Linked DNA regions of Homo sapiens: all the other regions are linked to region 2. Evidence: fine-mapped expression QTL. A gene starts in region 2. Each other region holds a variant in brackets. All regions are shown on one strand. Distances are from middle to middle.

Region 1 (5,346 bases), 99 kb before region 2:
GCCTTGAACTCCTGGCCTCAAGTGATCCTCCTGCCTTGGTCTCCCTAAGTACTAGGATTACAGGCGTGAGCCACTGAACTTGGCTATCAGTCTGGACATGTGAACCAAATTTTGAGTGTGGAATGCATCCTGTCTCAGTGCGGGATGGCCACAAAAAAATAGCATCCTCCTTTACAGTCCATCTACTCCTTTCTTTTCATAGCATTTAATACCACCTGACATATTATATATTTATTGTTTGTCTTCCCCACTAGACAGATCCCCAGCTTTAGTAAAGTGTTTGGTATAATCATCCGAGTGGCTACTTTGCTAGCAGTTAAAGGCACTAGTGCTACAGTCGTGAACAAGGCCCTTGCCCACATGAAGTGTACACTCCAGAGAGAAGGGTAGGTGTTCAATACATATTTGTTAAATGATAGACTATTAATATTATTTTGTCTGGAGGTAAGATATTACAAACATATCATAAATTAAATTTTTTATTCATTTTTTTGCATCAAAATAGTGCTTAAAATTGGAATTTATACTCACAAGACATAGCTAACATCCAAAGTAGACAATTAAAAAATATTATTTGAAAATTATGTACTTAGTACTGAAGACTTCCTAAATTTGCACATTAGCTAGATTGCCATTAGCACCATTAGAGAGTTGATCTTTGGCTAATGATTATTCAGGAAAATTTCAACCATTACAATCAGTGAGTATAATTTTATATTTCAGCAACGATAGTGGTCATGTTCAGCAACAGCTTCACTTACAAATTAAAGTAAGCTCACTTCAGTGTTGCACTCTGATGCTGTTTTTTTACCCCTTCTCTTGCAAATAACCAGTGAAATAAAAATTGCTTCTAACTGGCAATCGAAACAAGGGAGGAATTATGGCTAGCCAACTAGTTGCTAATGTTTGTGTTTTTTTTATTTAAGAAACATTTTAAATAATAGAGATGGGGTCTCACCATGGTGCCCAGGCTGGTTTAAACTCCTAGGCTCAGGCAATCCTCCCACTCGGCCTCCCAACATGCTGGGATCACAGGCTTCAGCCACCATGCCCGGACTGCTAATGTTTGTGAAAGGCAAATTGTAAACTTCTATGGTTTAACTTCACCAGAAGGGTAAAGGGCTCCCCACCTGCCACCTTGTTCTATAAAAAAAGTATACTCTGATTACTAGAATGGATTTTTAAAATTCAATTCAAAGATTCAATAACTATCAACATTTCTAAACACTGATTTTTCTTTTTCTCTTTTTCAAATGTTTTTTAATATCCTGCAGGTAATAACACTGATTTTTCTAATACTCAGAAACATCTACTTAGCAGTTGTGATACTAATTTGCAAAATGTAATAATGTTATACAAATATAAGATACTACTAAATACATAGTAGAAATAATTGCATGATTCCTGATATTTATATTCAAGGTATAAACATGACTGATTTCGCTGATACTACAGAATAAAAAAAATAAAGCTGCTATGTAAAAAATTAAAGAATATCTCAATTAGATATTTTTGTTCCCAATCTCTTTCAGACAGATCTATGAAATAATATAGAATATACTATCAATATGTTCTTTCATATGAAGTGAAAAAAATGGGATTTAAGTAGTGAGATAATTTCTATTTTTTACTTTTTTAAAAAAATAGACAGGGTCTTGCTATGTTGCCCAAGCTGGTCTCAAACTCCTGGGCTCCAGTGTGCTTCCTGCCTCAGCCTCCCAAAGTGCTGGGATTATAGGCATGAGCCATTGTGCCTGGCCTGTGGGATCATTTCTATTGGTTTTATATCAGTATTAATTAATAAGTCAATCAATTAATTAACCTTAATTATTTCTTTTTCTAAATAAGTATCAGCTGATTTAATCTCGCCCAATTGAATGCGTCTCTTTTGGTTGATCAATGCGATAGAGAAACTCTGCAGGTAAGAAGTATCCAAGATATTCCACTATATCTGGAGTAGTGTCATAATGGTAGTGTCCACCTTCTCCATGACGACTAAAAAAATGAGTGTGCTCCAGTCGCAAATCAAACCCCTAAGATAACAGACAAACAATATGTTAGTACTCAAATTATTGATTAGAGTTTAAGGGGGAGGGATAACTTTTTACGTTGCAATAGTTTTTATTTTTTAAATAGGTAATACATTCACATGTTCTAAATTCAAAGGGGGCAAAACGATGTATTCAGTAAAATGTATCTTCTTCTCTCTTGCCCTCACCACTCACTCCCCTTCCTAGCAGGTAACCAGTGTAAGCATTTTCTTGTATATCCTTCCATAAATACTTACTTTTATTTTTACTCAAATGTAGTATTTTGTACACACTTTTCTGCATGTAACTTTTTTTCATGTAACAATATAGTTTTGAGATCTTTGTATATGAAATCATAAAAGAGCTTCCTCATTCTTTTATACCTGCATGGTATTCTATTGCGTATGTAACTTCTCAACTGACACTTGCATTATTTCTAATTCTTTTGCTACTACAACAATACTGTAATAATAACCTTTTAACTAGTAATTTTACACAATTATGCATATATTTAAGTATAATATCCTAGGCATGTAATCACTGGATCAAGATATGACCAGGGTAGGCGGAGTAGCTCATGCCTGTAATCCCACCACTTTGGGAGGCTGAGGCGGGCGGATCACTTGAGGTCAGGAGCTCGAGACCAGCCTGGTCAACATGGCGAAACCCTGTCTCTACTGAAAATACAAAAATTAGCCGGGTGTGGTGGTGAGTACCGGTAATCCCAGCTACTCAGGAGGGTGAGGCAGGAGAACCACATGAACCCAAGAGGCGGAGGTTGCAGTGAGCCGAGAT[T/C]GCATCACTGCACTCCAGCCTGGGCAACAGAGCGAGACTCTGTCACAAAAAATAAAAAAAAGAGAAGATATGACCAATATTTTAGTAGGTATTTGCTTTGAATTGGTCTGTAATATTTTTTCTAGCGTATAGTATTATAATATAATGAACACCAAACAAGATGACAGGAGACCTGAATCCTAGTTGTGACTCTACTAATTGTTTTTTTTGAGATGGGGATTATACTGTTACCCAGGCTGGTCTCAAACTTCTGGGTTCAAGTCAGCCTCCTCAGTAGCTAAGAATACTGGGGCATGTGACCATGCCCAACTACACCTGCTATTTAATAAAATAATTTTGGGTGTTATTTAAAATGCTTGTGCCTTCATTTTCTCAAAGGTAAAATCTGCTCTGCCTAACTCATAGGATGGTGAAGAGCTCCCTTATCTTCCAAAATAATTCTAGAGGCTACCCTCATTCTTAAATAACAACAACACATGGCCGGGCATGGTGGCTCATGCTTGTAATCCCAACACTTTGGGAGGCAGAGGTGGGTGGATCACCTGAGGTCAGTGGTTTGAGACCAGCCTGACCAACGTGGTGAAACCCCGTCTACTAAATATACAAAAATTAGCCAGGCATGGTGGCAGATGCCTATAATCCCAGCTACCCGGGAGGCTGAGGCAGGAGAATCGCTTGAACCCAGGAGGCGGAGGTTGCAGTAAGCTGAGATCCTGCCATTGCACTCTAGCCTGGGCAACAAGAGTGAAACTCTGTCTCAAAACAACAACAACAACAAACACAAAAGTGCCTAGTTCTTAAAGATTATCCTAAAAATCAAGCATTATCATTGTAGTATAATATAAAAAACAGACACAGACTTACTGGGTCTCTGGAGACAAAAACTGGTAGACAAACCAAAGGAGCTTTCATTTCATAAAAATGCAACCATTTATTCACTTCTTCATCAGAGTTCAAGGGGCAGGAAGAAAATTCTGCAGGCTACAACAAAAGATAATTACATAGGTAAACATACTGAATATTACTAAGAATTAAAAATTTTAAAAATATATTTTACTTATTTATTATTATTGTTTAATTATACTTGAAGTTCTGGGTTACATGTGTAGAACATGCAGTTTTGTTATATAGGTATACACGTACCCTGGTGGTTTGCTGCACCCATCAACCTGTCACCTACATTAGGTATTTCTCCTAATGCTATCCCTCCCCTAGTCCCCCACTCCCCGAAAGGCCCCGGTGTGTGATGTTCCCCTCCCTGTGTCCATGTGTTCCCATTGTTCAACAACCCACTTATGAGTGAGAACATGGGGTGTTTGGTTTTCTGATCTTGTGATAGTTTGCTGAGAATGATGGTTTCCAGCTTCATCCATGTCCCTGAAAAGGACATAAATTCATCCTTTTTTATGGCTGCATAGTATTCCATGGTGTATATGTACCACATTTTCTTAATCCAGTCATTTGAGTTGGTTCCAAGTCTTTGCTATTGTGAATAGTGCTGCAATAAACATATGTGTGCGTGTATCTTTATCACAGAATGATTTATAATCCTTTGGGTATATGCCCAGTAATGGGATTGCCGGGTCAAATGGTATTTCCAGTTCTAGATCCTTGAGGAATCACCACACTGACTTCCACAATGGTTGAACTAATTTACACTCCCACCAACAGTGTAAAAGCATTCCTATTTTTCCACAACCTCTCCAGCATCTGTTGTTTCCTGACAGGGTCTGGCTCTGTCACCCAGGCTGGAGTGCAGTGGGATGATCACAGTGGGCCTGGAAAAAGCACCACAAGTTTCCACTCTGGTGTGTGGGATTGGCAGCTGGGCCCCCAGCCTTCAGGCCTTCCCTGGCCCGAAAGTGGGGCCTCACCGGAAACCCGCCCCCTTCTGCCCCGGAACCTGTCTGCCTCCTGCTGCCGATCACGGAATCCAGGCTGTAGGTGCCAAGGGGTGCCTGAAGGCCAGTGGGGAGCTGCTCTCAGCCGCCGCTCAGCTTCCCTTCTACGCTCGTGTCAGCGCCCCAAATCCAGAAGGGGCCGGGACGGCAGGGGGCTGGTGTGTCAGCAGTGCCCTGAGCGTGTGCACACCTGGCTGGGCTGCGACAGCGACCGGGCTCTGCCTGACTTTGCTCCTGGATCGGAGCAGGCGCCGACAGCAGGGAGAAGCCAGGCAGTGGGAGCAGGCATTTCCAAGCCTGTAAGAGCAGTGGGGGCCTTCCCAGACCCCCAAGAATGCAGGAATGCCTGGGTCCGCAGCCACGGTTTGGGCAGCTGCAGCTGTGTGGAGAAGGCAGGGCTCCTGCCTGCTCCGTGGAGCGGGAGACCCAGGTCTGCAGCCGCGGGTTTGAGCTGCTGCAGCTGCGCCTGGGCAGTTGGGGCTCTCGCCTGTTCCCACTGGGAGAGCACAGGGATGCCAGGGACTACAGCCATGGCTTGGGCGATTGCAGCGGCACCAACGGAGCTCCAGCGCCAACTCGGAAGGGGCAGGACTCCCACCTGTCTTCAGCTCCCACCCGCT
Region 2 (5,346 bases):
AGAGCTATACACAATCATCACAACCTTCAATAAGACTCTAACACCAAAAAGGACTAACTGCTGGCATTAAAAAAATCTTTTAATGCATCCTACTCATCTAATATTCACACGGCTTTGGTAATGGTAACTAAAGTACTGATTATATTTTTCATGCTATACATGAAGAAACAAGGCCTCTTGGGTTAAAGGACTTTCCCTGAGTGACAACATCTAGTGGCGGAGCCAAGGGAAGAATCTGGTTTCCTTATTCCAAATGGCTCCTAACTTTCCAACACACAAAAATATGTGGAGTGGCGAAAATTTTATTTAAGCTGTTGTTTTTTGAGAGTGAGAATTTAAAAAACAGAAAATTTAACAAAGAAGAAAAAAGAACAAGATTAATCTTCACAATGTATCTTTATTATTTTGTCTGAAGGTCTAAGAAATTCCCTCATATTTAAATAATTAAGACTAATTCCTGATGAATCTCATAGACATAATATTGCTGAATTTTTAAAAAGCCAGACACAAAAAAGTACAACAAAATTGATTTATATAAAGTTCAAGAACAAGCAGAACTAATCCATGAGAGGTAAAAATAAAGTTACCTTACTGGAAGTTACTGACTCGGAGATGGCACAAAGAAGCTTGCTGGGGTACTGAAAATTTATATATTTTGATCTGTATGATGGTTTAGACAAGTGTATACATATGTAAAAATTCCTCAAATGGTATACCTAGATTTGTGTTTTATTCTTATACTTTAAGAGGAAAAAAATCCTAATATTTCAAATTTTAGGTATCCATTACTTCATCTCAGAGGATTATTGAAAAACATATAAACATTTATTATTTTTAAGCTCCTAAAATGCGATAGAATAACTGTTTCTTCTTGTGTATAATTTTTAAATTTTTTAAACTTTTTATTTGGAAATTTCAGGCTTAGAATTCCCATTTGCCCTTTCCCCAGCTTCTCCAAATGTCAACGTCTTGTACATAACCATGGTACAATGATCAAAATCTGAATATTAACACTGACACAATATTTTTTACTAATCTACAGGCAGTATTCAATTTTTGTCAATTATCACACTAATGTCTATTTTCTGGACCAGAAGCCAATCCAAGGATATAACACATTGCATTTGTTGCTGTGTAACTGTGTGTCATCTAAAAAGCAGACGCTAAGATGGGAGTAAACCTGCAAATATTTTATTAGGAGAAATGCGTGTGTGAGGGAAAATGGGAGGGAGCTGATAAAAGTTACAAGCGCCTCAGACTTCAGTGTAAGTCTAACACTGAATGGAGGGAAGTAACAATGGGTAGACCCCTCTTAGACAGCCATGCAGTATAAGAAATGTTCAGCAAGAACCCGTGGGGAGATTCTCAGGAACAGGCCTGCCACTGTCAGTGGCTAGGAGCAGCCCATGGGAAGCATGGCCTCAGTGCAAATGGAGATTTCAGAATGCAGGAGATTAAGATATGTGAGTTACATTCTCATGTCAAAGTTGTCATGTCCCCCTTAATCTGGGACAGTTTCTCAGTCTGTCTTTTCAAGACCCTGTCATTTTTGAAAATACTGGCCAAGTACTTTGTTGAATGTCCCTCCATTTAGATTTGTCTAATCTTATGTGATTAAACTGAGGTTATGTATTTTTGGCAAGAACACCACAGAATTGATTAGGCACCTTTTCAGTGCATTGTTATCAAGAGGTAAATGATGCTGAATTTTGGTCACTTGGTTAAGATGATGTCCACCAGGTTTCTCCTCTGTAGTTACTACTTTTCCTTTATAAATATCTCATGAAGACAGAGTAGAGGCTACAGAAATATGCTTTTCATCATACTTTTGCCCATTGACGTTAGTATCCATTGATGACTGTTGTCTGAAACAACTACTGTGGTGTTTACCAAATAGTATTTTCTATTTCCATTATTCCTTCTACAATTATCAATCGGAATCCTGCTGTAAGGAAGTTTTCCCTGCTGCCCCATTTACTTGTTTATTAATTATTTATTCTTAGTAATATGGATTTTTAAATTCTACATTTTATTACTATCCAATATTGAAGATTATACTACTTATCTTGCAAGATTTCGTCCTGAGGATTAAATGGCTCCTGGTACATAGTAATCACAAAATTAACACTAAACTTGGAAGATCTGGGTTCAAGACCCAACACTGCCACTTATTAGCAGGAAGATACTGGCCAAGTCACTGAAGTCACTTTGGTTTCGTTTTCTTAAACTGTATAAAGGGAATAATAATATCTACCCCAAAAGGTTTGTTCTGACGTCTATGTGACTTAGCGTGAAGTCTTCAAATACACTCTAAGTATTAAGGACTCAAAAGTTCACCATTGTTTTAAAAGTTGAGTTTGTGACAGGATTGAATAACTGTGAGATTAAGGTGGCAGACACCAAAAGAGAGCGTGCTCTTTGCATGAAACGATCCAGGCAAGGCTCTTTTAACAGCTACCAGGTGGCAGGCCATGTCCGCGGGTGATCTGGGGGAAGCGCCCCTCCCCCGACACGGAAGCTCCGCGACAGGGGAGGCTGCGTGGGAAGCTCGCGCGACCCGACCCCAGGAGAGCGCGCAAAGCCTCTCGCACTGAGTTACCGGGTCTGGTCCGGACACTCCTTACAGCCGCCAGCCCGACCGCGGGCAGGGCCCACGGCCTGCGGAGCCTGAGAAACGCGAGCCGTACCTGCGTTCGCAACAAGGCGCCTTCCTGGGATCCCATTCCTCCGGAATACAATCCCAGCTCTTGGGCCTCGGGGAGTCATGCTCCTACGGGGCGACTGGGAAGCCAGTGCATCCCTGACTCACCTGAGAACCCGGGGCCTGGACACAGTAACCGCAGCTCAGAGCAAGCCAGCCTGGTAAGCTCCTGCCCATCAGCTGCCCAGCAGCCGTTTCTGCGCCTGCGGGAGAGCCATCGCCGAGCCGCCGTCACTTCCGTCATTCAAACCGCCCGCCAATGGCCGGACCAAACCGCGGGAATAGGCCCTGTCCCGCCTTCCTCGGGGGCCGCCGGGAAGGCTGCGCGGTGTTAAAAACCCCGCGCCCCGCGCACGCGCACAGGCACGCGCCAGCCCCAGCCTGCCTAGGGGCCCATTATTTGTCACACCTGTCAGGCTTTGACGTTTTCCCGTATGGGCCGCGCTCGGTGGCTCGCGCCTGTAATCCCAGCACTTTGGGAGGCCAAGGCGGGAGGATCACTTGAGCCCAAGAGTTCGAGGTTATGTATTTTTGGTTATGAGTTCAAGACCAAGTCCTTTTAAAAACATGGTGAAACCTCATCTTTACAAAAAATACGACAACAGCAAAAATTAGCCGTGCGTGGTGGTGGGCGCCTGTAATCCCAGCTACTCGGGAGGCTGAGGCAGGAGAATCGCTTGAACCCAGGAGGTGGAGGTTGCAGTGAGCCGAGATCCCGCCAGTACTGCACTCCAGCCTGGGCGACAGAGCCAAAGCCTGTCTAAAAAAAAAAAAAAAAAGTGCAGAGCCATGAGGGTGACTTTTGTTTTAAGGCCCCATCATGAAGATATCTTGGGATATGCATCCTTTTCTGTACTGACTACGGAATTCATTGGTACTATTATGCGCAGTTAACGTCTTATAGCTTTCATTTAAGGCCTCCAGCTCATAACAACAATGAGCCGTATGTTACCCTGTGCCTCCAGAGGTACAGCGCACGGAGAGCACCTCACGGATTTATCTGCTGTAAATAACCAATAATCAGGCGGTGAGCACAGGTTAATACCTATTGAGTATCTGTTATGTGCCGAGTACATTATGTTACTCTGGATGGATTATGATGCCTATACTAGATTTTGCAGTCTGGGTCATGGGGGTTAAACATCAGGAATCAAAGGATTAAAAATGGGGGGTGGGGATGGGAAGTTGCTGACACGATCAGATCTGGCTGCACAGTGGGGAAAAGGTCAGAGAGAGTGAAGACAGAAGGCCGTATACTACTACAGAAAGTGAAAGATAATAGCAATGAGAATGGAGAGAGGTGAGTAGATTGAATAGGAAGCCAAACATCAGGAATTGGTGGTTACCTGGTTATGGGAGGCACAAGAGGAGAAAACAAGGGTGATGCCCAAGTCCCAGATACCTAGCACCTGGGTAGATAGTGATAACATCCTCCTGGAACACACATGAAGAGAACCAGGAGGGAGAAGTAATAAGTTAAGCTTTGAATATTTTGAATTTGAGCTGTTTATGAGATATCTAGACAAAGGGATGCATTTCAGAAACTTAGGACACAAAATTAGCAGTACTTGACAAACAATTGCATGTGAGATTGAGAGAAAAGGGAAAGTGAAGTTGATTTCATAGGCCACTAGCTTGGGTAGCAGTGTTGATTCTTGATTGTAAAGGGAGAAATCAGAAATGGCAGTTAAGTGGGTAGGGTGATGAGCCAAGCTCTGTGTATATTGAACTTCATGTGCCTGTAGAACATCCAGTGATGTACTGTAAGCAGATGAATACATCGGTAGATAGCCCACAGAAAGAACTAGGCTAAGCATAAAGGGATTTCCTTGTTACATGAGTAATAACAAACGCTAGCGGAATGGATGAGATCACTTAGGGAGAATTTGCAGAGTGAGAAGAGCAATGAGCAAAGAACCAAACTCCGAGGAACACCAAAACTTAAAGGGATGGAGTAGGAGGAAGGAAGGTACAGGAAGAAATAGTGTGATTCCACCTCAGATTTACAGATCAGGATACTGAGTTACAGAGAGATTCAGCAACTTGGCCAAGGGCACATTTCAGTCAAGGGTGAACCAGGACTAGAATTCACGTTTCCTTCCCAAATATTAGGGTTCTTCTCAGCCTCTCTCCCCATTTCCTGTCACATTTATCTTGAAGAATATTTGTATTCATTTTAAACATTTTTTCAGCATCCTCCATACAGGCACGGAGATACTCTTCCATACCCGATAAAACATGTGCATATTATTTCATCCCTTGGGCTAGGTTTAGTGCCTGGACATGGGTTCCTGCACATGCTGCCCCATGGCACTTAGGAGTTCTTATTGAAATGAGCTGTTTAGAGGGCTCTCTATTGATTACACTCTAAGTTTCTTGAGAACCAGGAGTGCACTTTGTTCAGTTGCCTGGCATAAATGAACAAAGCTGAATAAATGACCAAATTACATGCTTCACTTCCTCAACCTGCATCCTTGGCAGAAATTCTACACTTGGAGATTTTGAATCGAGACTTGTTCTGTTTTTAATAGAAGGCAGTGAGGAATCAAAGCCCAAGTGGGCTTAGAGTCAGAGCATCTGGCTTAGCATTACCACAGATACTTTCTAGCCGTGGGACCTCAAATCAATGAGTCTTCATTTCTGTT
Region 3 (5,000 bases), 140 kb before region 2:
ACATCATCACTAATCTTTCTTTGTGGAAGTTTACAACGTTTAGATTGGGACCTGTAACCATAATCCCAGTTTTAGTCTTAGTTCTAAGTCTAAACAATTCAATGATGATAATTTTCTCTTTTCTTTTCCATTGCACTCAGTCTCTCTTTTTACTATGGAAAATTTTAAACACAAACAGTAGGAGGGCAAAAGGCTTACTGGCAAATAAATAATAAACACCAACAGAAGTATAATATAATGAAAGCCTATAATCCCATCACCCATTCTTAAGTTAAAAATGCAATCCAAACTTGTTTCATCTATGTTTAACACCTACTTTCTCCCAATCCACCCTCAAATCACCCCAATTATTTTATTCTTTCTTTAGATAAGGGGAAGAAAACTCTATGACTCTACTTTATTCCATCATCTTTCTCTGGAAGTTTCAGGACTAGTTTCCTGTCCATTGTGTATTCTTTCATACTCTGCATCTGCTCTCACACTTATCTACTATGTTTTCATTTTTTAAGTGAATTAAAACCTCTGCATTAAAAATAGTATTATATTGGAAATGACTGTACATAGGAAAAATCAAAAAGAAAGAAAACAATAGCATTATAAATGTATTTTTCTGCCCCTACTCCTAAGGGTCGTTATTTTGTGTTTCACAGTATGCTTTGCTTTACTGTGGCTAGTTACGTCTGCTGAAATAAAGCAACTAAGGGTATCGTAGTGCACACCTGTAGTCCCAGCTACACAGGAGGGTGAAGCAGGAGGACTGCTTGAGCCCAAGAGTTTGAGATCAGCCTGGACAACAGCATTGTGAGACGCCATCTCAAAAACACAAACTGAGACAAAAAGGAAATAAAGCAACTAACACTTTAAAAATAAAATGTAGTCACAGACCCTGACAAATGTCAGGTGTTAAATTTCAAAAAGGCTCAAAAGGTAGGCCAAAAAGTCCTTAAAGGCTACTGGCCAATTGCATTAACTTGTGATTTGTGAATGTAAATCAAGTAGACTGCATTCCTATGAAGCCTGGGGACAAAAACCATCTTACCTCCTTCACAGACACACAGTTATCAACCCAGTTTTTAGGGCATAATCATGAACTTGATTAGACCCAGGATCAACACCAGGTCATGAGAACTATAAAACTTGGGTTATTTTAGGCATAACATGGAGAGTATAGGCTAGAATACAAATGGCCCTATTCACTTCAAATATACTAGACCTGCCATAACCATTAGGCAAGAACTGAAGCAGACCTGGAATCTCAAAAGGTAAGGCAGCCTTCTGCTCAGTGCCGGGGTTCATTGTTTACCCCAGCTCAAATATGTGACATTTACTTAATAAAGACTAGTTTTTAGACATTGTTACCTCTCATTCTTACAATGTTTAAAAACAGACTTTATGAATTTTCTCCTAAGAACTAATTGCCATCAAAAAAACAAAAAAACAAGGGCCGGGAGTGGTGGCTCATGCCTGTAATCCCAGCACTTTGGGAGGCCAAGACAGCAGGATTGCTGGAGTCCAGGAGTTCAAGACCAGCATGGGCAACATAGACATGTTTCTTAAAAAAAATTTTTTTAATTAGCTGGGCATGGGGGCACATGCCTATAGTCCCAGCTACTCAGGAGGTTGAGGCAAAAGAATTCCTTGAACCCCGGAGCTCAAGGCTGTAGTCAGATATGATCATCACTGCACTCCAACCTGGGTAAAAGAGTGAGACTCCACCTATTAAAAAAAAAAACACTCTACAGCTTATATAATTTACAGAAATATTATGCCACCCTAGCAAATAAAAACCAAATGCTTAATATAATTACTCAGCAAACATCAATAGCAAATTAACATATTAAATACAAAACTTTTATTTTGGCCACTTACTTGCATATTTGTTCATAGCCTTGTGATGTGATTAAAACTTTCACACTAGATTCATAAACATCATTGATATTTGACCAATGAGCCTGTATCTGAGGATCCTCAATTCGGCTTGCTAAGCTGTCAATGGTTGCAGCAGCTCTTTTAAATACAAGAAGTTAAAAAACTTTTTAAGTCACCATACAAAATGATAGGAATATAAATGATTCGAAAATTTTATGAAAATTTTAAAACTAACTACTTTTTTAAACTACCACTA[T/C]GTGTAGGCAGACTTTAAATAAAGGCAGAGGTAGCTCTAAGAACCCTTTCATACTGCTTGAATGTGTAGGTTCTCAGCTTGACATTACAATACACTCTCATCACACACCCCTGATTATCATGATTCATGATGGGTTTATTCCCTTTAACTCTATTCATTTTCTTCCACTCAGAAAAGCTTATCAGGAAATGAGTGAGAAGGATATTCGATATTCTACGGTATAAACCTAATATAAATCATTCATAAATGTCAGTACTTGATCCCTGGTAACAAATGACTTGGGACACACCCACATCTAGACCCATTACTGTAATGAAATTATAATCATATTCAAGAGAAGCTAGAGATTTTTTGCACAATCAAATCCTTATACTCCAAAAAAAGAAAACTATCAATACCAATGAGAAATAAGATTTATCAAGTGTTCATTATACAGCATGCATTATAACAAGAGCTTTCATGAATTATATCATTTAATCTTACTAACATATCATTTAATCTTAACCTTATTAGGTAGGCACTATTATTTCCATTTTTTAAACAGAAAAAACTTTAGCAATGTTAAGCAATTTGCCCAAGGTCACATAGCTATAAACTGGGATACAAAACCTGGGAGTCTAAATCCAGAGCCAAAAACCTGGGAATCCAATTCCAAAGCCAGTAATCTTATACACACTAATCAACAGCCAACACTTAGAACCAAAGCATAAATCATTTAAATTAACCAAACCCTCAGTTTCTAATTATCTGATTTTTAGCACTTTACTGGAAAGAGAAAGAAAGGCCTGGAAGTGGCTCACACCTGTAATCAAAACACTTTGGGAGGACAAGGAGGGACGATCGCTTGATACCAGGAGTTCAAAACAAACCTGAGCAACATATCGACAACCAGTCTCTATAAATAAAAAAAAAATAAGCTGGGCACAGTGGCGTGCACGAGTAGTCCCTGCTACTCAAAAGACTAAGGCAGGAAGATCACTTGAACCCAGCAGTTCCAGGTTACAGTGAGCTATGACTCCACCACTGCACTGCACTCCAGTCTAAGCCAGAGTAAGATGCTGTCTCAAATTTTTTTTTTTTTTTTTTTTGAGACAAAGTCTCACTCTATCACCCAGGATGGAGTGCAGTGGTGCAATCTCAGCTCACTGCAACCTCCACCTTCCAGGTTCAAGTGATTCTCCTGCCTCAGCCTCCCGAGTAGCTGGGACTACAGGCGTGTGCCACCACGCCTGGCTAATTTTTCTATTTTTAGTAGAAACGAGGTTTCGCCATGTTGGCCAGGCTGGTGTAGAACTCCTGACCTCAAGTGATCTGCCCTCCTTGGCCTCTCAAAGTGCTAGGATTACAGGCATGAGCCACCATGCCACGCCTCACCTCAAAATTAAAAAAATAATAATAAAAATAAATTTAATTTTAAAAGACAATGGGAAGAAATGAGAAGAGCCAGTGGGGACAAGGGGCTTTTACATTAATAGACTTAGGGTTTGGTCTGCTGCTGCAGTACCGGCTTCTTACAATACATTCTGAAATTTATTTTCCTTTTTCCTTGATGTGTTTCCCTGACAGTGCTTCATAATTCCTATAGAAGGTAAGTATGTGTGTGAGCATTACGAGAACCATTAAACTGGAAATAAAATTATCTAGCAATGGAAAATTGGGAAAAGAAATCATGAAGTATTTACATTATAGGATATTATACAGCTATTAAAATAGATGAAAAAATTTACAATACAATATTAAATGAATGCAAGGTAAAAAATTTGTTTGTTTTGGTGTCACCCCTGAGGTATGAACTCAGAAGGATATAAAATTTTATAAACTCCGATTTTTCTTTAAAGACACACACACACACTCTGACACATACACATAAAAATATATTAGCATGTCAAGAGATCTCACTGTGCATGTTATCATACACATCAGTCTTTTTGTCTTTTTTAAGACATGGTTTCACTCTGTCATCCCAACTGGAGTGTAGCGGGGTGTGATCACAGCTCACTGCAGCCTCAACATCCCAGGCTCATGCAATCCTCCAGCCTCAGCCTCCCAAGTAGCTGGGACTACAGGTGCACACCACCACATCTGGCTAATTTTTTTTATTTTTTTGTAGAGATGGGCCATGTTGCCCAGGCAGGTCTCAAACTCCTGGACTTGAGGGATCTGCCCAGCCTCCCTGAGTGCTGAGTTTACAGGCATGAGCCACCACACCAAGCCCAGCTACTTTTTTTAAAAAGGCTTCCTGGCCAGGCACGGTGGCCCACGCCTGTAATCCCAGCACTTTGGGAGGCCAAGGTGGGTGGATCACTTGAGGTCAGGAGTTCGGGACCAGCCTGGCCAACATGGTGAAACCCCAACTCTACTAAAAATACAAAAATGAGCCAGGCATGGTGGCGCACACTTGTAATCCCAAATACTTGGGAGGCTGAGGCGGGATGATCGCTTGAACCCGAGAGGCAGAGCTTGCAGTGAGCTGCACCACTGCACTCCAGCCTGGGTGACACAGTGAGACTTCGTCTCAAAAAAAAAAAAAAAAAAAAATTTCTTGTAGAGACAAGGTCTCACTATGTTGCCCAGGCTGGTCTCAAACTCCTGGGCTCAAGCAAGCTTCCCATCTTGGCCTCCTAAAGTGTAGGGACTACAGGGGTGAGCCACCATGCCCAGACAGGGTCTTTTTTTCTTCACTAAGCTTTTTGTACACCAGGAAGAAGTAAAAGTTTTAAAGCTTTGCTGCTTCCAAGGCTACACTTACTACTCTGAAATTTATAATGGTTATAAAAATAGCTGTTTTTATGCTGATCATTTATTTGGGGAATATTTAAATTTATGGTCAATCAGAAATTTGCAAGACTAACGATCTACTCAAATTATCAGCTTT

The links. PIP is the estimated chance that this variant, and not a neighbour inherited with it, causes the effect.
Region 1: its variant is the best candidate, but not a certain one, in a credible set for the expression of CEP295 in lymphoblastoid cells (GTEx, PIP 0.74).
Region 3: its variant is the best candidate, but not a certain one, in a credible set for the expression of CEP295 in whole blood (TOPMed, PIP 0.54).

Annotation. Positions count from the first base shown.
Region 1 is chr11:93,758,202-93,763,547 of GRCh38, reverse strand. It overlaps C11orf54 (chromosome 11 open reading frame 54), which reads right to left. Exons shown (of 9, transcript NM_001286069.2): 8 at 3,690-3,806; 9 at 1-2,033. The coding sequence ends at 1,860. Among named protein-coding and RNA genes, the nearest start is that of C11orf54, 19 kb to the right of the region's middle. The variant T/C (reference allele first, on the strand shown) is at 2,826.
Region 2 is chr11:93,659,238-93,664,583 of GRCh38, reverse strand. It overlaps CEP295 (centrosomal protein 295), which reads right to left and starts at 2,902. Exons shown (of 30, transcript NM_033395.2): 1 at 2,810-2,902. RefSeq lists an enhancer at 2,779-2,908 and a silencer at 3,069-3,138.
Region 3 is chr11:93,798,842-93,803,841 of GRCh38, reverse strand. It overlaps MED17 (mediator complex subunit 17), which reads right to left. Exons shown (of 12, transcript NM_004268.5): 9 at 1,870-2,007. Among named protein-coding and RNA genes, the nearest start is that of MED17, 17 kb to the right of the region's middle. The variant T/C (reference allele first, on the strand shown) is at 2,126.